Linked DNA regions of Homo sapiens. The protein of the gene in region 2 purifies or fractionates together with the protein of the main gene of each other region. This does not show direct contact. Each region holds a gene or a part of one and is shown on either strand. Other genes may lie near its edges. The genes, in order: TARBP1, TNFRSF17, OPA3 and FAM171A1.

What was found.
Region 1: the proteins of TNFRSF17 (region 2) and TARBP1 purify together in Homo sapiens (affinity purification with mass spectrometry; 2 studies listed by BioGRID and IntAct, with this or other methods). This does not show direct contact.
Region 3: the proteins of TNFRSF17 (region 2) and OPA3 purify together in Homo sapiens (affinity purification with mass spectrometry; 2 studies listed by BioGRID and IntAct, with this or other methods). This does not show direct contact.
Region 4: the proteins of TNFRSF17 (region 2) and FAM171A1 purify together in Homo sapiens (affinity purification with mass spectrometry; 2 studies listed by BioGRID and IntAct, with this or other methods). This does not show direct contact.

The regions. Positions count from the first base shown.
Region 1 is NC_000001.11:234,392,163-234,399,187, forward strand, and holds part of TARBP1 (tRNA (guanosine(18)-2'-O)-methyltransferase TARBP1), read right to left. Parts: intron 6,392-7,025; coding exon 6,220-6,391; intron 1,676-6,219; coding exon 1,484-1,675; intron 1,325-1,483; coding exon 1,200-1,324; intron 391-1,199; coding exon 254-390; intron 1-253.
Region 2 is NC_000016.10:11,960,814-11,968,216, reverse strand, and holds TNFRSF17 (tumor necrosis factor receptor superfamily member 17), read right to left. Parts: upstream 3,008-7,403; 5' UTR 2,893-3,007; coding exon 2,763-2,892; intron 2,023-2,762; coding exon 1,876-2,022; intron 648-1,875; coding exon 370-647; 3' UTR 149-369; downstream 1-148. UniProt on the Homo sapiens protein: Receptor for TNFSF13B/BLyS/BAFF and TNFSF13/APRIL. Promotes B-cell survival and plays a role in the regulation of humoral immunity. Activates NF-kappa-B and JNK.
Region 3 is NC_000019.10:45,546,778-45,553,802, forward strand, and holds part of OPA3 (optic atrophy 3 protein), read right to left. Parts: coding exon 6,737-7,025; 3' UTR 1-6,736. UniProt on the Homo sapiens protein: May play some role in mitochondrial processes.
Region 4 is NC_000010.11:15,214,265-15,221,289, forward strand, and holds part of FAM171A1 (protein FAM171A1 precursor), read right to left. Parts: intron 6,797-7,025; coding exon 6,680-6,796; intron 1,847-6,679; coding exon 1,732-1,846; intron 338-1,731; coding exon 1-337. UniProt on the Homo sapiens protein: Involved in the regulation of the cytoskeletal dynamics, plays a role in actin stress fiber formation.

The DNA.
Region 1 (7,025 bases), on a different chromosome or scaffold from region 2:
AGACCAGCCTAGCCAACATGGTGAAACCCTGGGTCTCGTGGAGCATGCCTGTAATCCCAGCTACTTGGGAAGCTGATGCCTGAAAATTGCTTGAGCCAATGAGGCAGAGGTTGTAGTGAGCCGAGATTGTGCCACTACACTCCAGCCTGGGCTACAGAGTGAGACTCCGTCTCAAAAACAAAAAAAAACAAGGTAACATCTTCCAGTAGTCTGGGGCTCAGAGAATATACTATGGACACAAGAAGCTTCTTACCCCAACAAGAGCAGAGATTTCTCAGGAAAGCAATATTGGGTTAGGTCTAAACTTTTGGCAGTTTGTTCCACTCCAATGATGGTATAACCTTCTGTTTTCTTCTGCTGCAGATAATCAATTAGCTGAGGTGGTTTTACCTGAATATTAGTTTAAAAAGAACAGAATATTCATTCAGTTATAGCCCTGCTTGGAGTAAATTAGAGTTAAAAAACGTATTAACCTAAACTTAACTCTTTAAAAGAAAAAGGAGAGAATTATACATTATAAAAAAGAACTCTCCCAACATGACATCAATTTCTTTTTTTTTTTTTTTGAGGTGGAGTCTTGCTGTGTCACCCAGGCTGGAGTGCAGTGGCGCGATCTTGGCTCACTGCAAGCTCCGCCTCCCGGGTTCACGCCATTCTCCTGCCTCAGCATCCCAAGTAGCTGGGACTACAGGCGCCCACCACCACGCCCGGCTAATTTTTTTTTATTTTTTATTTTTTAGTAGAGATGGGGTTTCACTGTGTTAGCCAGGATGGTCTCGATCTCCTGAGCTTGTGATCCGCCCGCCTCGGCCTCCCAAAGTGCTGGGATTACAGGCGTGAGCCACCGCGCCCAGCCACCATGATATAAATTTCTAAGAATTATTCCTACATCAAGAGTGGGCTGTAACAGGATATGTTTTACTGAACAGAATTCTACATTATTGATGATTTCTAAAACTGTGACCTATAAAAAAATAAGTAGAAAAACAGAAGTGAGCTGTATGTTATTTTTAAACACTGTTCTTAAATGATTAAAGACTGCACTATTATAAATTATGCAAAAGGACTAATACACAAAGATAGAGCACTATAAAATATTTTTACAAATACAAACTTTTTTTTAAACTTTTATTTTAGGTTCACGGGTACATGTGCGGGCTTGTTTTAAGAACTTTAATAATAAATTACTTTCCACCCACCTCCACTAGAGGAAGCCACTGTTCTGCAGAGACACTGAGGTGCTGAAACTGTTTGTCGCTGATACACTGAAGGCTGCCAACAACGAGCACTGAAGCCCCAAATACCTCACAGGTCCTGCACAGTCCTGCACAGAACACCTGGGATCATTAAGATTGTTCCCAGCACAATGCTAAGCTCATCATGTCGCATACATTCCTTTGAAGCTCCCGTGGCAGTGGATTAATTAAAAAATGTTGAAGACCAAAAGCTTTCAGGCAAAGCTCCCAGAAAACTCCAACTTTACCTCCTAAATTGGTCGGTTTGTCGATGAGCGAGGCCACAACGATGAGTCTACTAATTGACTTTCCAAGTCTGGCAGCACGATCCTGAAACAGGAGCTCCAGGTCTAAGTCGGAAACACGACTGTTCCACGGGATAATCTTCTTCTGAACGTCGGTCCACTCCGCTTGGTTATCTGCTTCGACCAAATTAGTACCTGGGAAGGAAAAAGAAAACAATCCCACATATAAATAAATCTGAATCTCTATATATTTATGTATACATGTATATGTATTTTTAAGAATGTGAAATAATTTAGAATGAGATAATTTAGAATGAGACTTAACAAAGCATTAAGTAAAAAACTTTAGTTGGATTCAGACACAATTCCCATTTGTAGTAGTAACTTTAAGTTTTCAAAATCAGCTTTATTAACCAACATATTATGATACTTCATGGAAACATGAGATACACGTTTTTTCACGTTTTAGCATATCTGAAATTGAGACACATCTTAGAATCCAGAGTATCATAGTTTGGTAACATTTTTTTCCTTGGAAGTACATAAAATAATGATGTATCTTACAAACAGCAGTATATTAGATTGGGATTTTCTATGGAAAGACTATTTCTGAAAACAATATAATAAAATATCTAAAATAATTTTAAAAGTGCTGGAGTAACTTTTCTAAAATGAAGGATGTTGTATAAAGCAGTTATCTCTTGACAAAAGTGATGAGGACACAGAACGTTACTAGCCTATCTGACTGCAGTGTTTTCATCTCTGTAGTACAGGACTGAGACTCTACCTCTCAGGCTCTTCCTCAACTCTGTCCTACTCCAAACTGCTTTCTGAGCAATCAAGTGGCACTTAGTTCACTTAGGATAGGACAGACATGCAAATAACTGTAACACAGTACAACAGTGAAGGTAATGCTTACACAGAAAGGGGTTACTAATGTCTAGGGGAGGGAGAAGCAAAGGGTAAGACCCCGGAAGGCTCGCGGGAAGGAAGGTAAAAGTTTGCAAAGCAGACAGTAGATACAGCATGTGCACATGCATGGGATGTAGAAGCAACATGGTTCAGACAGCAGCAAGTACCTTGGTTTAGTGCACAGCCTGCAATGGAGTGGAGGGAGATGGCTCAAACCAAAGGGCTTTGCATACAATGATAAAGAATTTATTCTGTTGGCCAGGCATGGTGGCTCATGCCTGTAATCCCAGAACTTTGGGAGGCTGAGGGAGGATCACCTGAGGTCAGGAGTTTGAGACCAGCCTGGCCAACATGGTGAAACCCCGACTCTACTAAAAATAACACATTAGCCAGGTGTGGTGGTGGACGCCTATAATCCCAGCACTTTAGGAGGCCAAGGCGGGAGGATCACCTGAGGTCAGGAGTTTGAGGCCGGCCTGGCCAACATAGCGAAACCCCATCTCTACTAAAAATACAAACATTAGCCAGGCATGGTGGTAGACGCCTATAATCCCAGCTACTAGGGAGGCTGAGGCACGAGAATCGCTTGAACCCGTGAGGCAGAGGTTGCAGTGAGCTGAGATCGTGCCACTTCACTCCAGCCTGCAGCCTGAGAGACAGAGCGAGACTCCGTCTCAAAGAAAAAAAAAAATTATTCCACAGTTAAAAACCATTAAAAAATTTTAAGAAGGAGAGTAACAGTACTGCTGTGTGTTTTAGAAAAATCTCTTTTAATAGCTATGTGGAGGCTAGAAAACCATTAAGGGGCTTTTGTAGTAGTCCAGGTAAAAACAATGCCAGTCTAAATGAAGACAAGGCAAGAGGGGCTAAAGAAGAGGAGGAGGAGGCAGCTTTGGGAAGTGAAATCGCCAAGACTGGGTAACGGATGTGGCAAGAGCAAAAACAGGACAAGAACGACTTCCACGATGATTGACCAATACCATTAATAGGGCATACAGAGCAGGCACTTTTGGGCAGAAAGGCAAACTGAATTTGGATATGGTGATATTTCAAGAGCTTAAGGAATATCCCGGTGCTAATGTCCAGTCTGTTCAGGACAGAGGCTGGGCAGCAGATAAGGATTTGAAAGTTATAGTTACACAGGCGGTGGTTTCAAGTTGGGGACATTAATAAATGTGTTCTGGGAGAGGATGAAGAGTGAGAAGAAGACTGGGCCCGTGAAAACCTTCAGTGGCAGGAGGAGAGGTTGGTCAGAAGGTACAAAGTTAGTCAGTCAGGAATAAGCTCTTGTGTTCTAGTACACAGTAAGATGACTATAGGTAACAATAATGTATGTATACTTCCAAATAGCTAGAAGAGAGGATTTTCCATGTTCTCATCACAAACGTGAGAGGTGACAGATATGCTAATTATCCTGATTTGACCATTACACAATGTATATATGCATGAAAACGCCACACTGTACCCCATAAATATGTACAATTATTATTTGTCAATTAAAAATGAAGTAAAACTTCTTTAAAAAAGAAAAAAAATTAGGGGGATACTAACATTTAAGCCTCAGCATGGAAAGTCTATTACAACATGCCCCTCTTTACCAAAAACAGGCAGAACAGACAGACCTCGTTAGCCATTCTGCCATTCCAGTAACACTGTATTTCCCTGCTCCGCTTTACGCAGAACTCGACAGCTGCCTACAATGCCATCTCTCTTCCCTCTCCTCCCAGGCTCTACCCAACCGCACTGGGAAGTGCCTCCTGTCACTGTCCTTTGCTCTAGAATCTTCACAGTTGCTCTTCCTTTTCCAGTAAAGCTCTCGCCGGGACAGACCTTGCCTTGCCTTGCCCATACTTCCTTGGGGTCTCTGCTCAATGTCAACTCCTTAGAAAGGTCTTTCTCACCCTCCGTCCCTCTCTTCACCCTGCTTTGTTTTTTCACGGTACTTCTACTACCAGACACTGTGTTAGGTACGTGCTCCCTGTTGTCTCCTCTGTAAGAATGTGGGCTCTATGAGGCAGGGACTCGGTCTCATGTCTAACACGCAGGAGACAATCAATCAATCTTTGTTGAATGAATAAATTTAGGATAGTATGTCTTAAAACACATTAGTGAACCATCCAGAGGCCTGACAAAAATTGCATTTTCCCAGAACTCTCCTCCAGAGATACTGAATTTAAACTAAGGGTGGTTCCAGACCCATAATTGGCCTTTAAAAAAAAAGAAAAAAAAAATCTAAGGGTGGGACATGGAATCTGAATTTTCAACAAGTCACATGTGAGTCCTGAAGACATGGAAAGTTTGGAGAAGCACCGATGTCAGGGGCATGTGGGGGACTCAGAATGAGAAGGGTCAGAGTAAGGAGGAAAGGCAGGATGGCCGGAGACTGGCAAACATGTGGCACAGAATGGGCAGGTGCAATCTGAGGGCAGCGTCCATTTTCCACTCGGACTGTGTAAAAGAAACCGAAAGAAAATTTCTAATTTCCTGAAAGAAGTTTCAAAGGTGGTAATCGGCTGGGGAGAGTCAGAATGAGGCTAAAATGTGAGTGACAGACTGATAGGAAGATAGCCTACAGTCATTAAGACGGTCATTTTTAAATTGAGTTAGGGAACCTGATTCTTGGGTTTTTAGGACAGCTTGACTGTGAAGGGGAAGAGGAGGAGGAGGGGGAGGAGGGGGGAAGGGGGAGGGGATGGGAAAGTGGAGAGGGAGGGAAGGGAGAAGGGAGTAGGGGAGGCAGAGGAGGGGGAAGGGGAGAAAGGGGAGTGGGAGGAGAGGGAGGAGGGGGAGGGGGAGGATGGGGAGGAGGGGTGAGGGGGAGGAGGCGGAGGGGGAGGACGGGGATGGGGAGGAGGGGGAAGAGGGGGGAGGAGGGGGAAGAGGGGGGAGGAGGGGGAAGATGGGGGAGGGGAAGGAGGGAGGATGGGGAAGAGGGGGAGGGGGGAAGGGGGAGGGGGAAGGGGGATGGGGAAGGATGGGGATGGGGAGGAGGGGAAAGAGGGAGGGGGGAAGGGGGATGGGGATGGGGAGGAGGAGGAAGAGGGGAGGAGGTGGGGGAAGAGGGGAGGAGGTGGGGGAAGAGGGGAGGGGGAGGGGGAAGAGGGGAGGAGGGGGGAAGAGGGGAGGAGGTGAGGGAAGAGGGGGAGGGGGAGAGGGGGAAGAGGGGGAAGAGAGGGAGGAGGGAGAAGAGGGGGGAGGGGGAAGAGGGGGAGGAGGGGGAGGAGGCGGGGGAGGAGGGGGAGGAGGCGGGGGAAGAGGGGGAGGGAGGGGGAGGGGAGGAGGGAGGGGAGGGGGAGGAGGGGGAGGAGAGGAATGTGGGTCCCAGAGGAAGCTGGTGGAAAGGAGTCATTGTACAGGGAAGGATGAGACAGAGGAGAAGGGATAACATGAAGCGGCGTCCAACCAACCAAGAGGGGACTAGAATCAAGAGCTCTGCTTTATTCCTATGAAGGACAAAAAAAGAGATTTCATCATTTGGTCCTTTTGGAAATGTTTATTTTTACAGAAATATATAGTAGAAAAGCAATGAGTGTTAACGAACAATACTACTTAAAAGGGAGGCCACTGGCCATCAGCTTTATATAAAGCAGATCAGGCTTCCTTTGGCTTTTTTTTTTTTTTTAAATAGCTTTAAAGCTAAGTTTCACTAAAAGTGTTAGTCAAAGTTATACCACACTTTTTCACTGTCTTTTCCCTAAGTGGAAAGGCAGAGGTCACCATGTCAATGAAAGTGATATTATTATTAACTACCTGTCCTTAGTAACTTAAATCAAAAAAATCTAACCAGATCAACAAGGGGAAAAAATAAAATGAAAATTATTTTTTACCTATGTCTTGCTGAGACCAGTCACCTGGTTTTAGTTTACTAAGTTGAGTTTGAGAAAGGTACCACTGAAATCCCGCAGCTAAAGGAACATCAGTGAATCTGGTAAATTTATCAATGGTGATCCATTCATCTTCAATAAGGCCTGAAAGGCGTGGAAGGATGTAAAATATGGTCTGAAAAGAGAATTATAAAATCTAAATTTCTTCCCTTAAGAATAACAAAGAAATATATAACATTTAAAATACAACTTAATTATTAATGATATATTCTCCAAACTATTACATCTGATCAAACTATATACTTTCATTTATATCTTATAGCAACTGTCTATATATATTTCTCATCTTCTCAGAAATTAGGGGATTAATTTAGGAAACCCCTGAGAGGAGGCAGAACTTGTACTCTGGTACTTCTAACTGTGTGTAATAAACCAGTATGTGCCTAATAAAAACAGTGTTTCAGAAGTAATCAGTTCTAATGATGGACAGTATTTGGATAAGTGCAATTTACTGACAACTAAATACCTCCAAAGGCAATCAAGTTCAAGCTCTTTTCATGACAAGTCTTTTACTCTCGTACCCATTAGATAAATTTAGAATCTGAATTCTGGTTTGACTAATATAATTAGTTATGTGACGTTAGGCAAGTGATTCAGCCTTTCTTGGCTTCAACTTCCTCATTTGTAAGACGAGGATAAAATCAGATTACAACAACATATTAAAGTGTTCGTGAACACGGCATAGTCTGACACCACTGTAAACAGTCATCGCATAAGCAATCCTCCTTTGCTTTTCTTACCTACTAAAA
Region 2 (7,403 bases):
GCATGAGCCACCGCGCCTGGCCAAAACTGGAGCTTTATTATCAATAGGTTAGAATTCTTTCCCCCTCCCACCTTTCTCTCCCACCCTCACCCCCCACACTGGTATACATGCTTGTTTTTAAAAACTCACGTTAATAAAAACTTAGATGTCAGGAAAAAAAAGAGTTTAATCATGAAACCAAGGAAGTTTCTACCATTAAGCTCCCAACAGTAACCTAGAGAAATATATCTAACATAAAGAGTTTCCACAGTTAGAGGACAAAAAGCTGTATCGGCAACTGAAAAATACAGTCATCCTAAAGAGATCTGACACATCATCTATTCTGACAAAAGATTTTTAAAGTGGCACTGCTCGAGTCGAAATGGTTAATTACCTAGCAGAAATTGATTTCTCTATCTCCGTAGCACTCAAAGCAGCTGGCAGGCTCTTGCAATAGTCATTCGTTTTCGTGGTGACAAGAATGGTTGCGCCTTCCTCCATAGCTGGGAGTGGAAAGCAATGGTCAGAGTCGACCTTCGGTTTGCTCTTGATGCAGTCTTCACAGGTGCATTCTTCCACCGTGTACTCGAGGCCTCTCGGAAGAATAATTTCATCACCAGTCCTGCTCTTTTCCAGGTCAATGTTAGCCATGCCCAGGAGACCTGATCCTAATTATGTAGAAACGGAAACATTAACCCAAACTTCACAGAGAATGTGGTCATGAGAGTCTTAGCAGTACACATCGGGACTCAAAGCAATGTGAGAGAGATTTTTTCATTTTTTAGAGGTGGGGTCTTACTGTGTTGCCCAGGCTGCATTCAAACTCCTGGGCTCAAGCAATCCTCCCACGTTAGCCTACAGAGCAGTCGGGACTACAGCTCCATGCCACCACACCCAGCTTGAAACAGATCTTTTCAGTAAAAAAGAATGAGTATGTGCTGGGCCCTGTGGCTCACGCCTGTAATCCCAGCACTTTGGGAAGCTGAGGCGGGCAGATCACTTGTGGTCAGGAGCTTGAGACCATCCTGGCCAACATGATGAAACCCTGTCTCTACCAAAAAGTACAAAAATTAGTCGGAGGTGATGGCACATACCTATAGTCCCAGTTACTCAGGAGGCTGAGATGGGAGAATTGTTTGAACCCAAGAGGCAGAGGCTGCAGTGAGTTGAGATCACGCCACTGCACTCCAGCCTGGGCCACAGAGCGAGACTCCATCTCTAAATAAATAAATAAATAAATAAATAAATAAATAAATAAATGCATACAGAAATAGGGCAGTGGCTGTACATGCTTGGGAATCCAATCATGAGCAAAGGTGCTGCAGAAGTATTTTTATCTTAAGAGGCACTTAAGTAGAACATTCATTTTTCTGGGACTGGTTCTCTATTGCTTAAAAATAATTATTTTTTAGATGATTCCTCAAATAATTCAGGAGCAACTGGTTATTCATTTCTAACATTTTTCAGTAGTAAAATGTTCACTCAAGCAAAGAACACCTATATTTGTATAAAAACATGACCATAGATCTTGACAAATATGCTTTTCCTGACAGTAGCAGACCTGGCTAGGAGTTTCTGATAATGTGGCATTTAATCGATGTGCTAACTTTAGTCAAAGAGACTGATGTTTCCCAAGAAAGCCTTAGTACTTTCAATAGAGTAATTAACAGTGGAAGAATCCTGGAGAAGACTGACATTGTAGAAAATCTGCCAAGGTGTCAAAATCAGAATGAAGATGGCTCACCTCTACCAAGTTCATTTAATGTAACAATGTTCTAACACATTCGAAAGGGCTGTAACGAAGTGAAATAGTCAACGCTAAAAAAAGAAAAGGAACTGAAACTCACAATAGCCATCCCCTGGAAATAGATTTCAAAGATTCACCATCAAACCAACCTGTGTTTTTAAACTCGTCCTTTAATGGTTCAGAGTTTATCTTCCTTAGCAAAAACATTAGCACGAAAACTGCCAAAGAAATTATTAAGCTCAGTCCCAAACAGGTCCAGAGAATCGCATTCGTTCCTTTCACTGAATTGGTCACACCTTTATGAAAAGAACATCAGACAGATAATGAGCTGATAACATAATATTCACATACTTTATTGTTATTATTTATTTATTTATTTTGAGACAAAGTCTTGCTCTGTTGCCCAGGCTAGAGTGCAGTGGCGCGATCTCGGCTCACTGCAACCTCCACCTCCCAAGTTCAAACAATTCTCCTGCCTCAGCCTCCCGAGTAGCTGGGATTACAGACCTGTGCCACCATGCCCAGCTAATTTTTTGTATTTTTAGTAGAGACAGGGTTTCACCAGGTTGGCCAGGCTGGCCTCAAACTGCCGACCTCAGGTGATTCACCCACCTCGGCCTCCCAAAGTGCTGGGATTACAGGTGTGAGCCATCCACCGCACCCGGCTGTCATACTTGATTATTTTGCTAAAATAATGAATTATGGATTGTTTTGATAGCAAAATAATCAAGTATGGATTATTTCCATTCAATCACCTTAATTAATGAACATTGACTTTTAAATTCTAAATATCACTTAATTAGAAGAGCTGATTTTTAAAAAAAATCTATGTTGCTAATAGTGCTGAATCATATCAAGTTCAGTTCCAAATAATTACTTTGTTTCCATAAACATTAAAATCACTGCCTTGCTTCCTTTCTCTTTTTGATTCAAGAAAACTCACCATCATGCCCATTATGTTGATTCTCTGAATAAGCAGTCCATATAGACAGAATAGTTCACACCAATGAATAATCGTTCAAGCAATATTACTTACTTGCATTACAATAACGCTGACATGTTAGAGGAGGAGTATTAGAAGAACATCGAAGTTGACAAGGTATGCAAGCATGCAACAAACTGTCAAAATATTCATTTTGGGAGCACTGCCCAGCCATCTGCAACATGATCACAAAAAGAAAACAAGGGAGCTACAGAAAGAACAGCCTGGAAGGACAAGTAATATCTCTACAAGAATTCCAGAGCAAATGCAGCAAGAGCAGCTAGAATGTTGAGAACAATGAACTTCGCCTGCTTCGTGGGTTCTTACGGGGGCTGTCTGTGTCTTCGCGGCAGCTAAGGATTTGAATACCACATCTAATTCAAGTTTCTAAGTTTGAGTCTTGGATGGGGTAAGAGACAGGGTGTAAATATCAGGGCATATCACATCTGAAACAGAAACTGCTTATTTATAGAAGAAATTTCTCAGCCAGGTGACAGTTGCAAGATGCAGACAAGCCCACAGCATCAAGCCGAATGTTCAGTAACAGTTTCTGGAACATCTGTTAATAAGCTGTACTCTGTGAGAGGTGCCAGGGAGATAGACAAGACAAGGTCTGTGCTGTGCCCCTTAAGATCTTAACATTGAGGCCAGCTGCAGGGGTTCACACCTGTAATCCCAGGACTTTGGGAGTCAAAAGGCAAAAGGATTGCTTGAGCCCAGGAGTTCAAAATCAGCCTGGGCAACATGGCGAAACCCTGACTTTACAAAAACATTTTAAAAAGTAGTCTGGTGTAAGCTGGGCGCCGTGGCGCTCTCCTGTAATCCCAGCACTTTGGGAGGCCGAGGCAGGTGGATCACTTGAGGTCAGGAGTTCCAGAACAGCCTGGCCAACATGGTGAAACCCCGTCTCTACTAAAAATACAAAAATTAGTCAGGCATGGTGGCAGGCACCTATGATCCCAGCTACTCAGGAGGCTGAGGCAGGGAGACGTGCTTGAACCCAGGAGGCGGAGTTTGCAGTAAGCCAAGATCAGGCCACTGCGCTCCAGCCTGGGTGACAAAGCAAGACTCTATCTCAAAAAAAAAAAAAATTCTACAGGAAGATCAGAGGTGATGCACTAAGGAAGACGCACAATGCCACTGACAGAAAAAGAGACATTTAGGGTAAGAGCTCGTGGAAAGAGGGCTGAGAGGAAGATAGGTTTGGGGTATTATAATAATAATACAATAATCTATGTTCCATTGTTGAAAATTTAGAAATACAGATGAGCAGATAAAACCATTTTAAAAATCCACAGTCCAAGCATCCAGAAGTCATCACCGCTAACACCTGGTGTATCCCAGAAGTTGCAAACAGACCTGCCGATGCGATGTCTTTTGTTTCACCGATCCCTGAATTCTAGATAGATACATTTATATAGTGCATTTTTCTGTTTACATAAATGGATCACTTGAATTTGCCTTTTTTTTTTTTTTTGACAGAGTCTCACTCTGTCTCCCAGGCTGAGTGCAGTGACACAATCACAGCTCACTGCAGCCTCCACCTCCTGGGTTCAGGTGATCTGCCCACCTCAGCCTTCCAAGTAGCTGGGACTACAGACATGCGCCAGCACGCCTGGTAAGTTTTGTATTTTTTGTAGAGATGGGTTTTTGCCGTGTTGCCCAGGTTGCTCTCAAACACTTGGGGTCAAGTGATCCACCCACCTCGGCCTCCCAAAGCGCTGGGATTACAGGTGTGAGCCACTAAGCCCAGCTTGAATTTGCTTTTAACCATACTGAGTGAAATACCCATATAGAGACGTCCAGATGTTTGTCAAAAATGCAGGACTCAATTAAAATTTGAGGAAATGGCAAACTCCTAATTCAGTATAGTGATTATCTCTGAGGTAAGTGGTGGGGAAGAAGGGGAGCACAAAAAAGGCTTCACCTGTGTTTATTATATTTTCTTTATTAAGCTGAGTGGTGGATACATTGATATTTGTTGTTTTCCTTTTGTTGTATTTTTCTTATTCTTTACACTTTCTTAAGGCCCAAGGAGTGTGCCAAGGAAACCTGCCATCCCTTCTACTTTATTTCATCCTCCAAGCACCCCAACCTTTAAAAACTTATTCTTTTTTTTTTTTTTTTTGAGCTGGAGTTTCACTGTTATTGCCCAGGCTGGAGTGCAATGGCGCGATCTCGGCTCACTGCAACCTCCACCTCCCAGGTTCAAGCGATTCTCTGGCCTCAGCCTCCTGAGTAGCTGGGATGACAGGTGCATGCCACCACGCCTGGCTAGTTTTTGTATTTTTGGTAGAGACGGGGTTTCACCGTGTTGGTCAGGCTGGTTTCGAACTCCTGACCTCAGGTGACCCACCGGCCTTGGCCTCTCAAACTGCTGGGATTACAGGCATGAGCCACCTAGCCTGGATGATTTTTTATTTATTTGTTTGTTTGTTTGTTTGTTTGTTTTGAGATGGAGTCTCCCTCTGTTGCCAGGCTGGGGTACAGTAGTGCGATCTGCAACCTCTGCCTCCCGGGTTCAAGTGATTCTCCTGCCTCAGCTTCCGGAATAGCTGGGATTACAGGCATGCGCCATCATGCCCAGCAAATATTTGTATTTTTAGTACAGACAGGATTTCACCATATTGGGCAGAATGGTCTCAGTCTCCTGACCTCGTGATCCACCTGCCTTGGCCTCCCAAAGTGCTGAGATTACAGGTGTGAGCCACCGCGCCCAGCCACTGATAATTCTTGTTTTTAAAATTCATATTATTAAAAAATAAGTATTCAAACAGTGCCAAAGATTTTTCAATGAAAAGTAAGTCTTTTTCCTACCCTGGATTTCCTCTCTCTTGCCAGAGGCAGTAATTACTGTCAGTCTTCCTCTTTTTTTTTGGTTTTTTTTTTTTTTTTTTGAGACAGAATCTTGCTCTGTCACCCAGGCTGGAGTGCAGGGGCGCTATCTCAGCTCACTGCAAGCTCCGACTCCCAGGTTCATGCCATTCTCCTGCCTCAGCCTCCAGAGTAGCTGGGACTACAGGCACCCACCACCATGTCTGGCTAATTTTGTTTTTGTATTTTTAGTAGAGATGGGGTTTCACCATCTTAGCCAGGATGGTCTCGATCTCCTGACCTCATGATCCGGGATTACAGGCATGCGCCACCATGCCCAGCTAATATTTGTATTTTTAGTAGAGACAGGGTTTCACCATGTTGGGCAGAATGGTCTCAATCCCCTCACCTCGTGATCGACCCGCCTCGGCCTCCCAAAGTGCTGGGATTACAGGTGCAAGCCACCGCACCCAGCCTTTTTTTTTTTTTTTTTTTTTAAGACAGGGTGTTGCTCTATTGCCCAGGCTGGAGTGCAGTGGCACCATCAGGGCTCACTGCAGCCTCCACCTTCTGGGCTTAAGCGATCCTCCCACCTCAGCCTCCTGAGTAGCTAGGACTACGCACATGCCACCATGCCCAGCTAATTTTTGTATTTTTTGTAGAGATGAGATTTCATCATGTTGCCCAGGCTGGTCTTGAACTCCTGGGCTCAAGTGATCTTCCTGCCTCAGCCTCCCAAAGTACTGAGATTACATGTGTAAGCCACAGTGCCCAGCCACTGTCAGTCTTCTGTCTTTCCAAATAGAGCCTCTGTTTATGTCTGTCTATTCAGACCCTACCTATTTTATTTGTATCCACCCAGGAGGCAGATAGAGCATATTATACAACTGCTCATACCTTTTTTTTTTTTTTTTTTAAACAGGGTCTCACTCTGTCACCCAGGCTGGAGTGTGGTGGCAAAATTTCAGCTCACTGCAACCTCCGTCTCCCAGGTTCAAGCCATTCTCTTGCCTCAGCCTCCCTAGTAGCTGGGATTACAGGTGCGTGCCTCCAGGCCTGGCTAATTTTTGTATTTTTAGTAGAGACGGGGTTTCAGTATGTTGGCCAGGCTGGTCTCGAACTCCTGACCTCAAGTGATTCGCCCGCCTCGGCCTCCCAAAGTGCTAGGATTATAGGCGTGAGCCACTGCGCCTGGCCTCTTTTTGTATTTTTAAAGTAGTCCATAATAAATGCTAAAATCATGAAAATAAAATGCAGAAATTTAAAAAAATACTTTTTTTTTTAAATGCAGGACTTGAGCCTAGGAAAGATTTTGAACTTAGATATTGATCAAAACGTCAAATTCCTCTGGGGTCCAGGTGGTGAGGTAAGTGGGAGAGGCTGCCTAGGCAGGACAGGGAGAAGCTGAAGCAGCTGGCCCAGGAGGCTCCACTCCCTCAGCCTCTGCCAGATTGCTGACCTTTGGAAGACAGGCAAAGGAGACAGGACAAACATGATTAGAGAAATAGGGAGAGAACAAAAATTATCTCCCAGGCTGGGTGCAGTGGCTCACACCTGTAATCCCAGCACTTTGGGAGGCTGAAGCAGGTGGATCACCTGAAGTCAGGAGTTTGAGGCCAATCTGGCCAACATGGTGAAACCCAGTCTCTACTAAAAATACAAAAATTAGCCAAGCGTGGTGGCGTGCATAATCCCAGCTACTTGGGAGGCTGAGGCAGGAGGATCGTTTGAACCTGGGAGGCAGAGGTTGCAGTGAGCCAAGATTGCGCCACTGCACTGCAGTCTGGGCTACGGAGTGAGACCGTGTCTCAAAAAAAAAAAAGAAAAGAAAGAAAAAAAAATCTCCCATAACAGTCAAGCAAGGAGAGATTTTAGCCTGAG
Region 3 (7,025 bases), on a different chromosome or scaffold from region 2:
ATGTCAGCCTCTCATGTAGCTGGGATTACAGATGTGCACCACCACACCCGGCTAATTTTTGTATTCTTTTTATTAGAGACGGGGCTTCACCATGTTGGGCAGGCTGGTCTCGAACTCCTGACTTCAAGTGATCCTCCCACCTTGGTCTTCCAAAGTACTGAGATTACAGGCGTGAGCCACCGCGCCTGGCCTAAAACTCTGCTTCTTATTGTGGCACGTGGCTGTAGATTGAGGTGGAGGTTCTGAGATCTGCGCGCAGTGGGGGTTACTGCTGAGCACTGGGGTCATTTCCTATGGGGAAGGAGGGAGGGAGGGAGGACTCCACAGAGGGGGAAGCTGAAGCCAGATGTGGTGGAAGCAGAGGCCTGAGTGATCCTGTTGGGGCTCCAGAGCTGGGATGACCTCCACAGTTGTGCCAATCAAGGCAAGGGGCAGCCTTTGCTTGCCTGGCCCCCTCACCTAACTTCTCCCCTCGCTTACTCTATTCCAGGGGATGGTAAACTTTTTCTGTAAAGGGCCAGAGAGTACGAGAGCCCTAGGATCTCTGTGCAAATACTCAGCTCTGTCACTGTACTGCAAAAGCAACTGTGGAAAATATGCAAACGAATGAGCGCCTGGGTTCCAATAAGTCTTTATTTACAAAGACAGGAAGCAAGGGTCCCCTTGATTTGGCCCAAAGGCCTTGGTCAGCGAGCCTCTGCTCTATTCTGACAGCCAGAAACTCTTGCTGTTCCAGGAACAGGCCAAGGCCACATCTGTCCTAGGACTTTCACAGATACTCACAGCCCTCTTCCTATCTCCCTCCATCTGAAGCGCTGCCTCCTCCCTGCCCACCTGTCTAGATCAGCGGTGCCCGTAAGTCCGGAACTCCTACCCTGCCTCCATTCCTCTCAGTCCTCATCACCCTATGCTGGATTAGCTTTTTCCTTTTTTTTTTGAGATGGAGTCTCGTTCTTGTTGCCCAGGCTGGAGTGCAATGGTGCAATATTGGCTCACCGCAACCTCCGCCTCCCGGGTTCAAGCGATTCTCCTGCCACAGCCTCCTGAGTGGCTGGGATTACAGGCATGCACCACCATGCCCTGCTAATTTTGTATTTTTAGTAGAGATGGGGTTTCTCCATGTCGGTCAGGCTGGTCTCGAACTCCCGACCTCAGGGGATTGGCCCGCCTCGGCCTCCCAAAGTGCTGAGATTACAGGTGTGAGCCACCACGCCTGGCCACTCTTTCCTTCTTTATTGCCGGTCTCTGGCACTAGAATGTCAGCTCCAGTGAGGGCCTCTGCTTGCTCCCAACTGGCTCCCAGCTACTAGAATGGAGCCTGGTGCAGTTGATCCTCAGTACACTCAGAGTTGCCATGCTTCTCCTCTCTCTGTCCACACCGACTCCAGCTACAAGCCATTGCCACTGGGGGACCCAAGCCTGCCACTCAGCAACACAGCGACCAGCCCAGGAGTAGCTCCGTGAGCCAATAGATCAGGTTGGGGCTTATGTAAAGCCCATTTTCTCCTGGGGTGGCTCTCAGCCATTTTGCCTCCCTCCAGGCAATGGCCTGCCCTACAGAGAAACCAACAAGAGGGACAGCAGGGCCTGCCAGGAGATGGGAGGGGCACAGCCCTCAGGGCACCTCCCAGGGTTTTGTGAGCTGGGATGAATGGGTTTATAGTCCTGAGTCACTCCAGAGGGAGGATTCCGGATTCAGCCCAGCCCCTGCTTCCTAAACAACTATGGGGTGGGGCAGGGAACACTGGAAAAGAAATGTACGTGTGAGCATCTGTAAGACCCGGTGACGGCAGGGCTGGGGCTGTCTCTGTCACCACTGTGACCCCAGCATAGGGTGGGGCAGAGAGTGGGTAACTCAGTGAGTTTTGTGTTTTATTTTTTTTATTTTTTTTTTTTTTGCGGGAGACGCCCTACCAAGGACACTGGGTCCATGTCCCGGTGCGGGACCACCTCAGTGAGTTTTTTGAGTGAAAGAATAAATAAAGGATATTTTTCCTAAGGTTGACATGGACCTTATTTATTTATTTATTTATTTATTTATTTAGAGATGAAGTCTCGCTCTGTCACCCAGGCTGGAGTATAATGGCATGATCTCGGCTCACTGCAACCTCCGCCTCCCGGGTCCAAGAGATTCTCCTGCCTCAGCCTCCCGAGTAGGTGGGATTACAGGTGCACAACCACCATGCCCAGCTAATTTTTGTATTTTTAGTAGAGACGAGGTTTCACCATGTTGATCAGGTTGGTCTTGAACTCCTGACCTCAGGTGATCCACCCACCCTGGCCTCCCAAAGTGCTAGGATTACAGGTGTGAGCCACTGCGCCCAGTCCCAAGGACTTTTTAAATATGAAAAAAGAATGCATCAACTTGAAGATAATCAGCTTCATTTACAAATTTATTCTAACCCCTCTCCCCAAATTACAAGGTACACAGAATTCTAGCTAGCAGAACACACGAGCAGTGAACCATCCTCTGGCCTCTTGCATTTTGAGAGGACGTTCTTTCCACTTCCACACACTCTGGCCACCCCTGACGCCGCAGTGGGGGAAGTAGATGGCCCTGCTGCCCACGATGACTGGCTGCCTGTCAGGGCAGGGCAGGGCAGGGCTGAGTGCGAAGTCTCTGAGATGTGAGAGCAGCACTCCATCTGGGTCAGGACAGCGCTGGGGTCAGGAATTGGAGCTCCTGCCTGTGTTCACACTCCCACCTCTGTTTTTTTTTTTTGAGTTGAGTCTCACTCTGTCACCCAGGCTGGAGTGCAGTGGCGCGATCTCAGCTCACTGCAACCTCCACCTCCTGGGTTCAAGCAATTCTCGTGCCTCAGCCTCCCGAGTAGCTGGGATTCAGGAATGTGCCAACATGCCCGGCTAATTTTTGTATTTTTAGTAGAGACGGGGTTTTGCCATGTTGGCCAGGCTGGTCTCGATCTCCTAACATCATGTGATCAGTCCACCTTGGCCTCTCAAAGTGCTGGGATGACAGGCGTGAGCTGGCCTGGGTCACTCCCAGTTTTAAACACAGCCCACTCAGGACCCACTCGGTCAGTTCCCTCTGCTCCAGCTTCTCCCCCTCTTCCAGAAGGAACTGAAATGCTGTTTCAGGCCAGGCGCGGTGGCTCACGCCTGTAATCCCAGCACTTTGGGAGGCCGAGGCGGGCGGATTACCTGAGGTCAGGAGTTCAAGATCAGCCTGGGCAACTTGGAGAAACCCCGTCTCCACTAAAATACAAAAATTAGCCAGGCGTGGGTGGTGGGCACATGTAATCCCAGCTACTTCGGAAGCTGAGGCAGGATCATTGGTTGAGCCTGGGAGGTAGAAGTTGCAGTGAGCCGAGATTGCACCACTGCACTCCGTCAGGGTGACGGAGCTAGACTGTCTCCGAAAGAAAAGAAAAGAAAAAAGAAGAGAAAAGAAGAAAAGAAAAGTTTCAGAACCTGTTTCTTGGCTTTCTATCTGGGCAGATCTTGGTCCAGGCCAGTTTTACCTCTTTAGAGAAGGGAGGTGAGGATGGAAGTCGGGGAAAGCCCGGCCCTCCCACTTTCACCTGCAGCTTCCCAAAAGCGGGCCCAGGTGGAATGGTCACCCAGTTTACACAATGCTATGATCTCTGGTGTGATCTGGGGCTGCTCTGAGAGGGGATAGAGAGGGTCTCCCACTATCAACGCCACCTCTGGGATGGTCTGGGCCTCTGTGTAGAGATCGTCACCCTCCCAGCCTCTGCTCAGCCATCGCCTCTCCCTCCTCACTCTGCAGCTGGGGTAATCCAAGCCTCTCACTCTGCCCCTACTACTTCACCACCCTGGGCAGTCAGCCCCTCACTGGCTGTGGCATCTCTGGCAAGTCCCTTTGCTTACCCCTGGCCTTAGTTTCCCCAGCTCATAGGGTGACTCTTGGGCCTCTCCCCATCAGAACCCTCCCAGTTTCCCTCCTGATTTTAATAAGCTCTGTACCCATTGTGGAGATCCACATGGTGGTTCAGGTACAGCCTCAGGATGCCTTCATCACCTTGCAGCTCCTCTAATGAGAGAGCTACAGTCGGAAGGACAGACTGCAGGCTACTGGGACCCACCCCCTCCCGCTTCAGTGGCAGATCCTGGAAGAGAAACCCAGTAGAAAAGGGTGGTTCCTAGACTGTTCCTCTCAGCTAGCAGGAAGGCCAAATGGCCCGCGGGGTTGGCAGGAGTCCCAGGGTACTTTTTTTCTGAGAAAGGGTCTCACTCTGTCATCCAGGCTGGAGTGTAGTGGCGCGATCACGGCTCGCTGCAGCCTCGACCTCCAGGGCTCAGGTGATCCTCCTGCCTCAGCCTCCCAAGTAGCTGGGACTACAGGCATGCATCACCGCACCTGGCTAATTTTTTATTTTACTTTTGTAGAGATGGGGTCTCACTATGTTGCCCAGGCTGGTCTTCAGCTCCTGGGCTCAAAGAGATCCCTCCTGCCCTGGTCTCCCAAAGTGCTGGGATTACAGGTGTGAGCCACTGCACCTGGACGCCAGCGTACTCTTGGGGTGAGGAGGAATAGTGGGCTGAATGGCTTGAATGGTGTGCCCCCAACAGACAAGTCCACATACTAACCCCCAGGACCTGTGCTTATGACAGTTTATTTGGAAAAAGTGTTTTTTCAGATGTAATTAAGGGTCTTGAGGTGGGATCATCCTGAACTTAAGATGGGCCCTAAATGCAATGACAGGTGTTCTTGTAAGAGACAAAATAGAAGAGGGAAAAGGCCATGTGAAGCTGCAGGCAGAGCCAAGGAAGGCCTGGAATCACCAGGAGCTGGAAGAGGGAGCGTGTCCCTGTCAGCACCTTGGTTTCAGACTTCTGGACTCCAGAACTGTGTGAATTAAATTCCTGTTGGACTTAAGCCATCAAGTTCACCACCCAATGGTGATCTGTTATGGCAGTCCAAGGAAATTAATCAAGCAGTTAAGGCCAACTGCTGGCCTAATTGGTAGGATGGGGGTGGGACCGGGGGCTATGGAGGCAGGAGGGTACTGCTACATGAAGACAGGCTGTCGGGTCAGTCCAGAGCTCCGAGGAAAGAAAGCAAGAGCACACAGATTAGGAGACACGGATGGAAGATGAAGGATGTGACAATTGAATCCATGGGCTTGGATTCGACTGGGTCCCTGAGAAATGCTACTGAGCAAGGTGGGGAAGGCAAGAAAGGACATGCCACACAGTACAAGCTCCAGGGACTCTGAGGACAGGAAAATAGGGGGCTGAGGCTGAAGGACAGGCTGGATTAGCCCTAGTTAGGATCAAATTTCCCACCACGGAAAGGGGGGTTGGAGGACATTCACAGAAAAGATCCTGTAGTGCCATTCCAGTGGGTTGTGCCATAGACTCAAGGATGAGGGGGTTCTGTTGGAATAGTCCACTTCGGGTCTCAAGGGAAGGTACAATGATTCCAGGGATTGACTGCAGGCCAGGACCTTTTGTGGGTTTTTTTAAGATGGAGTTTTGCTCGTTACCCAGGCTGGCATGCAATTGCGCAATCTCGGCTCACTGCAACCTCTGCCTCCCGGGTTCAAGCAATTCTCCTGTCTCAGCCTCCCAAGTAGCTGGGATTACAGGTGCATGCCACCATGCCCAGCTAATTTATGTATTTTTAGTAGAGACGGGGTTTCATCATATTGGTCAGGCTGGTCTCGAGCTCCCGATCTCCCGACCTCCCGACTTCAAATGACCCGCCCACCTCGACCTTCCAAAGTGCTGGGATTGCAGGTGTGAGCCACCGTGCCCAGCCAGGATTTTTTTTTTTTTTTTGAGACACAGTCTTGCTCTGTCACCCGGGCTGGAATACAGTGGTACAATCTTGGCCTCCACCTCCCAAGTTCAAGCAATTCTCCTGCCTCAGCCTCCCAAGTAGCTAGGATTACAGGCACCCACCACCACGCCCGGTTAACTTTTGGTTTTAAGACGGTGTCTTGCTCTGTTGCCCAGGCTAGGGTGCAATGGTGCCATCTTGGCTCACCGCAACCTCCACCTCATGGGTTCAAGCAATTCTCCTGCCTCAGCCTCCCGAGTAGCTGGGATTACAAGCGCACCCCACCACACCCGGCTAATTTTTGTATTTTTAGTAGAGACGGAGTTTCACCATGTTGGCCAGGCTGGTCTGGAACTCCTGACCTCAAGTGATCCGCCCGCCTCGGCCTCCCAAGGTGCTAGGATTACAGGCGTGAGCCACCGCTCCCAGCCGCACCGTTTTTTTCCTCCTTAAGAGAGCACTGATGCTCAGCTAGAGCTGACCTTAGAAGGTGAGGGGGAGAAAAGGCCACTGCAACACACTGCATTTCCTTACAGTGGTCTGTGCCGATTGACAAAAAGAAGAAGGTGTTCCAGTGTAACAGATGAGTGTCCCAGTAAAGGTTAACACTGATCAGGTAAACCGGGGGTGGGGGTAACAATAACACATTGATTCAGCTCAAGACCAGGTTCCATTTTTTCATTTGCCAGAGTGCCCACGGTGTCCTGCTGGCTGGGACCTTGCAGGTCGTCCTGGTTTGGAGTGGGGGATAGGAGGTGAAGGATGATGGAGGGGGCTATGTTGCAACGCTTCACCTGCTGGTCCCAGTGGCAGGTAACGGCTGCTCTTATCAGCAGGGGTAACCAAATGCCAAGTTGCATCAAGATCCTGGTGGTTTCCACTGGGCCAGCGCAGGCAAGGGTGGTGCGGGAAGAAGGCCACGTTAGGTACATAGGCCATGTCCAAATTCAGGTTCCATCCAGCAAGCTCCTATTTCTTGGACGCAGGCACTGCGTGGGAAGCGGACCGGCCGGGATTGCAGAGCTGGGCGCGCACCTCTTGCAGCTCTGTGCGCAGTTCCTCCAGGGCGCCCTGTGGCGGCGCCGCCTGCACCTGCGCCTGCAGCGCTTCCAGCGCCAGCGCCAGGTGGCCCACCTCGTCCCGCAGCGCGTTCCAGGCAGCACGCTGCTCCTCCTCCTTGTGGCGCTGCTGCGCCTGGTGGCGCCAGTACTCCAGCACTAGGCAGCCGCCGCCCACGATGAAGATGGTGGCTTCGCCC
Region 4 (7,025 bases), on a different chromosome or scaffold from region 2:
CTGGCTTTTATCCTCTTCCTTGCAAGAGAGGAGCTCCTCCCGGGAGCTAAATTCCTGGGAGGTGCTGTAGGAGAGCTTGAGCATGGGGGTGTGCAGGTCCCCTTCGCCGCCCGGAGACATCATTTCCAAATGGACTCCACTCATCAGTTCCTTCGTGCCGGGGGCCTCGGGGCGGCCGTGGCTGGTGACGGACAGCGGGCCAGGGAATTCTGACGCTCGGCGTGAAAACAGCAAGTTAATGTGTGACATGGACGTGGACTGGTCTCTTTTGGAACTCTCCAGTCCTGCAGGGAGCTGCAGTTTTCTGTGGTGCTGACGAGGTTTCAAGCACTTCCTCCTGCGCCCAAAGACACAATCCAAAGCCAAAGATTAGTGATTCTCACAATGAAAAAGTTTCAAGTTTCAGGTAAAATCCTAATTCTCAATTTCCATGGGGAGAGACAAAACAAAACAAGTCAGGAGCAGCCAAAAGCCTTCTCACCCCACGCCCTGTCTTTTTTTTTTTTTTTTGAGACAGCATCTTGCTTGCTCTGTCGCCCACGTTGGAGTGCAGTGCTATGATCATAGCTCACTGCAGGCTTGACCTCATGGGCTCAAGTGATCCTCCCACCTCAGCCTCCCGAGCAGCTGGCACCGCAGGCACATGCCACCATGCCCAGCTAATTTTTGACTTTTAGTTTTTTTGTAGAGATGGCCTGTGTTGCCCAGGCTGGTCTTAAACTCCTGGCCTCAAGCAATCCTCCCCCTTCAGCCTCCCAAAGTGCTAGGCCTCCATGCCTGGCCCTTATCCTTATTTTATCCTTATTAGAGTAGGATAATCGAGAGATTTCATCTTTTACTGTCTGGAGAGCCCTTTGCCTAAATGAATTAAATGTATGACATTCATTTTTCTATGACTTAAAAAAGTCAACAACTTATTAAAGAGTCTCAAACGTGACTAAAATGCTTTGCATTTTTAAAAATAAAATTTTTCCTCTATAATGCCTTTTTAAAACAGCTAAACTTAAAGGCTTTTATAAGCCAAGTTACTTATTTCAAAGGGGTTACTCAAGAGTTGACAATAAATATTCTTGCAAACTAAACAGACACGGCATCTAAATAAGAATAATTTTTTTTTTTGAGATGGAGTCTTGCTCTGTTGCCCAGGCTGGAGTACAGTGGTGCAATCTTGGCTCACTGCAACCTCCACCTTCTGGGTCCAAGCAATTCTCCTGCCTCAGCCTCCCAAGTAGCTGGGATTATAGGCGTGTGCCACCATGCCCAGCTAATTTTTGTATTTTTGGTAGAAACGGAGTTTCACCACGTTGGCTAGGCTGGTCTCGAACTTCTGACCTCAAGTGATCCGCCCACCTCGGCCTCCTAAAGTGCTGGGATTACAGGTGTGAGCCAACGTCCCTGGCCCAAATAAGAAGAGTTCTGCTTTGCCCTTCAGAGTATCATCTCTTAATCAGCGTTCAGGAATACTCTGAATAAATCAGATGACTATTGTTAAACTCTTTTTCATAACTCCCCTTCTAAGCAATGTTATCCACGCAGCATGCTTTACACATACTATTTGTTAAGTTGCAACTTAGATCACAAATGTGAGTTCTTACTTTTTCATGGGAAGAAAAAGTACTTCAATTTAGAAAAATTAAAAAAAAAACCCACCTCCATATTAATGCTTCTAAGTATCAATTGCCCAAGAAACTGTGAATTAAAAAAGATATTGCCAAAATGGTAACACTTTACCTGCAATAATATAAAAGGAGACACAGCAAAACCAAAAGTATGAAAGCCATTCCTCCTAAAATGGCCAAAAGAAACACCGTGTGATACGTGGTAATGTCCTGTGTTACAACGGGACCTAGAAGGTCAGAAAATGGCATTTAGAGTTTTGAACACCTTTAACTCAAAAGAGGGATCATTCATTGAGAACGCAGTGTCTTGTGCTTACTCTTCTTAGCTGGGGCATAGAGCAGTGGCCAGAGGAAAACGCCCTTGGATCATGCACTTGGGGTACCACCAGCATTGCATTAGTGATTAGCATGACTATTATGGAAGCTCCCACAGCCAGGAGAACTTTGAATACTCAAAGACAAGATGTGGTTACGTCAAGGGCCCCTCCTAAGCGGAGAAGTGCGCCTCACTTGGTAGCATGTGCCGCATTTGAAATACATGATCTTTTTAATTTTTTTTTTTTTTGAGACAGGGTCTCATTCTGTCACCCAGGCTGGAGCGCAGTGATACAATCATGGCTTACTGTAGCCTTGACCTCCTGGGCTGCATCAATCCTCCTGCCTCAGCCTCCAGCATAGCTGGGACTACAGGCACGCACCACCACACCTGGCTAATTTTTATAAATTTTTTTTAGAGGCAATGTTCTCACTATGTTGCCTAGGTGGGTCTTGAACTCCTGAGTTCGAGCAATCCACTGCCTCGGCCTACCAAAGTGCTGGGATTATAGGCATGAGCCACTGTGCCCAGCCATATGATCTTTTCATACAAGAAAATGAACGCATGACGATATAATGACTGGGACTCTCACCTTCAGAAAGATGGCCTATCTGGGAATTTTATATTGCAGTGAAAAAAAAAAAAAAAACCCTACAAAGTTTTATTTTCGCTTTTCCCGGGCAGTCAATCATTACCGTCTGGAGAGCCCCTAGCCCAAATGAATCAGTTTAAATGTATGACATACATTTCCTGTGACTTAAAAAAGTCAGCAACTTTTAACACTTAATACAGGTATCAAATATGACTAAAATGATATCCATCTTTAAAAACAAGATCTTTCTCTACAATGGCTTTTCAAAATAGCTAACCTTACGTGGCCAGAGATCTCTTTAGAACTTATACATAAGGTTATCAAAGATAAAAATATTTTAAGTTTATGTTGTAAAAAATCCCAAGAGGTAGCTTAACTCACATTTTATGTTCCGTAGTAGTACAAATCTATCTTAATGTTACTAACAACAGATCAGCGACAACAAAAACCTCCCAACATTCCAATATTTAGGTATTTATTGGTGTCCGAGTTTCCTGGCAGTGTATGAATACATGGGTCGAAATGAACTGGCCTCATATTATTTCAGGGTAGCATGGCTATGATTATTAAACACCACAGACACCCATTTGCTTATTTTTGATTTTTGACATTCTAAGACATAGACTTTTTAAAAAATCTTCTTAAGGGGACAAATCTCCTAATTTAAGACCTAGATAAACCCAAGATTTACCAGTTTTTGAAAACAGTGATGTTACTTAAATTCACAAGAAACACCATTCTCTTTCAGATATAATTACTTCAATGGAGTGCGAGGAGGGGGTTAAAGTTTACAAAAATTGGAAAAATAACTGACAATTAGATACTGGCTTACTTGTTCAGAGAAACAATTTTTTTTTTTTTTTGAGACGGAGTCTTTGCTCTGTCACCCAGGCTAGAGTGCAGTGGTGTGATCTCAGCTCATTGTAACCTCTGCCTCCTGGGTTTAAGTGATTCTCCTGCCTCAGCCTCCTGAGTAGCTGGGATTATAGGCGCCCGCCACCATGCCTGGCTAATTTTTTTAAGTAGAGATGGGGTTTCACCATCTTGGCCAGGCTGGTCTTGAACTCCTGACCTCATCATCCACCTGCCTCGTCCTCCTAAAGTGCTGGGATTACAGGCATGAGCCACCGCACCCGGCCCAGAGAAACAATTTTTTCATGCAAAGACAATAGACAATTCCCACGGATGTAGCAAAGCTTTGTCAGGAGTCACCAAGAAACTTAGGGTACACATAAAAGTATTTCCAAATACTGATGCTTCGTCCTTTAAGTACTCAAAGCATTATTGTTTTGTTTTGTTTTGTTTTGAGATGGAGTCTCACTCTATCATTCAGGCTGGAGTGCAGTGGCACGATCTGGGCTCACTGCAACCTCTGCCTCCCAGGTTCGGATAATTCTCCTGCCTCAGCCTCCTGAGTACCTGGGACTACAGGTGTGTGCTACTGTGCCTGGCAAATTTTTTGTATTTTTAGTAGAGACAGGGTTTCAACGTGTTAGCCAGGATGGTCTTGATCTCCTGACCTCATGATTCGCCCACTTTGGCCTCCCAAAGTCCTGGGATTACAGGCATGAACCACCGTGCCTGGCCAGCATTATTGTTTTAATCTCTGCCAGTACGATTCTTTATAAAATTCACAGCTATACTTCACTTCAAGGAGTTAAGGAACATAACCCAAATTATTTTGTTGTTGCTTTTGAGTTCATGAAAGCCCAATATTAGTATAATTTTTTGTAATAAAGGTGGGTTGTGAGATGACTGACATATGTATCCCTACATTAAATACCATCAGAGGCTGTAGTGGGTATGCTTTGTGTTATTTTTGAGATGGGGTCTCACTCTGTCACCTACGCTGGAGTGCAGTGACATGATCATAGCTCACTGCAGCCTTGAACTCCTGAGCTCACGGGATCCTCCTGCCTCAACCTCTCAAGTAACCGGGATTACAGGTGAATGCTACCATCACTGGCTAATTAAAAAAAATTTTTTTAGAAGTGGGGTCTTGCTGTGTTGCCCAGGCTGGTCTTGAACTCCTGGGCTCAAGAGATCATCCTGCCTTGCCTCCCAAAGTGCTGGGATTACAGGTGTGAGCTACCATGCCCTGGCCTGTGTATGCTTTTTATAGCCTTGAGTCTCTTCCTTCACTGCTAGGAAGCTCTCAGGGGAGCTACGTCTGGCAGTTCCTTCATGCTGCCTTACAAAAGCATATACTGGACAGGCGCAGTGGCTCATGCCTGTAATTTCAGCACTTTGGGAGGCTGAGGCGGGGGGATCACCGGAGGTCAGAAGTTCAAGACCAGCCTGACTAACATGGTGAAACCCTGTCTCCACTAAAATACAAAAATTAGCCAGGTGTGGCGGCGGAGACCTGTAATCTCAGCTACTCTGGAGTCTGAGGCAGGATAATTGCTTGAACCCAGGAGGCGGAGGTGGCCATGAGCTGAGATCATGCCATGGTACTCCAGCCTGGGCAACAAGAACAAAACTCTGTCTCAAAAAAACAAACGAACAACAACAACAACAAAACCAAAACACACACACACAAAAAGCATGTACTGATCTACTGCATGATGGGAAAACTAATAGCTGAGATTGAAATACATCTAAAATTAAAGTTCATTTTAATGCGTGGGCTTTATGGCATTTATTTTAGTGCTTAAGACAATTCTTTTCCTTCCTTTGTTTCTCTTCAGTCATAATCTAGGTATTTCAGATTCAGAGAATGGGGCATTTCTACGTGTGGTTCATGCTTATATCACTACAAAAACAATAGCATCAAGGGAAACACATTAATCTTTTTTTTCTTTTTTTGAGAGGGTGTCTCGCTCTGTCGCCCAGGCTGGAGTGCAGTGGCACAATCTCGGCTCACTGCAACCTCTGCCTCCTGGGTTCAAGCGATTCTCCTGCCTCAGCCTCCCAAGTAGCTGGGACTACAGGCGTGTGCCACCACGCCCAGCTAATTTTTGTATTTTGAGTAGAGACGGGGTTTCACCATGTTAGCCAGGATGGTCTTGATCTCCTGACCTCGTGATCCGCCCTCCTCGGCTTCCCAAAGTGCTGGGATTACAGGCGTGAGCCACCGCGCCCGGCTAAGGGAAACACATTACTCTTAAAACAGATGTGAAGTGTAAATTTTCTTAGTATGGTGATATAAAGTCATTGTAACACATTTTTCCACACCTGTTTAGGAAAGACCTCCATCAAATCAGTTACTTTGTGAGTCTAAGTGCTAATTCCAGTGATAATTCCATTGCTAAAATATTTGAACTTGCATTTTAGAACTGCCTTCATGGTTCATTTACAAGAGACACCTTTTAATCACAGCACATTTCGACCTAGCTAAGTCACCTACTTTATTCACCAGTCTTGAATGTGCATGACTTTTAGATGTCTTTAAAAAGAAAAATCATAAAGATTTGCCATTTGAGCATAAAGATTTGCCACCAAGAAAGAGATTTACTAATGAAGGCAGAAGGCAGTCCAAGTAATATAGATTCTAAAGGCAGCTTGAGCAACAGAAGCTATCACTGGAAATAATTCTCCTGAGATGACCATTTTGAAAACAAAACAAAACAAAACAAAACTCAACAATTCTAGAATATTTTTGGGGGTAACATAGGTTAAAAAAAATAAACTATTGGTCACGTTCTGAAAGATATGCATTAATGCACATATCCTAAATGGAGGGGAAGATTCTCGTAGATACAAAGCAACTGGTTTACGTTTAAGCCATTTTGGAAATGCCCCACCAGGCTTTTTGCCCCCAGTGGTGACTTCCCACTAGCATCTCTGTGGAGTGCTTTTCCCTACATGTGTGCCTATACCAGGCCACAGCTGTTTCAGGAATTAGGGAGGAGGTCTTGCTGGTCTCTGTGGGCTTTTGATGAAGAATTCCCTATGGCAGCTGTCTGAACAAAACAGCCACTCAAGACTATTTTCTATGCATTATTCTTACCCTAGATGGAAGATTTCCAACCAGAAGTCCCCCACCCCCGCAAAATACCTTCTTTACATCATCTCATTTTCAGACTTTTAACCATTTTTGAATAAGATGTGATCGCCCTGCTGAAGTTATTTTCAAGAGCATACTTAGCCTGAACCCTCAAAGACCAAAGCAACTGATCCGCATCATCGCAAGTGTTGGCTCCGTGTTACCTGGGATGGGAGGGGACATGGCGGCCACCCAGTACCCCAACTGGGGGGCAATGTATGTCCACGTCAGCTGGCTGCCTTCCTGGTGCACAAGACCCAGACCGCTCTTCAGCCACGTTCCTGTGGAATTGAGAAAGAGATGTTAGCTACAAGCACACCACGCTCCTTTGTAAGGCTTGAGCATATTGTAAAAGTCATCTTAAATATCTTAAATGTCATGTTTATGACCTATAAGATAACCAAGATGGCCAAAGTGTCATCTAGGGACCCCAGGCAGCTTTCTGGAGAAATTCTTTTCAATTTCCTTTCAGGGAAAGATAAGCAACTTTAGTGTTCCTTTGCCTTCTCA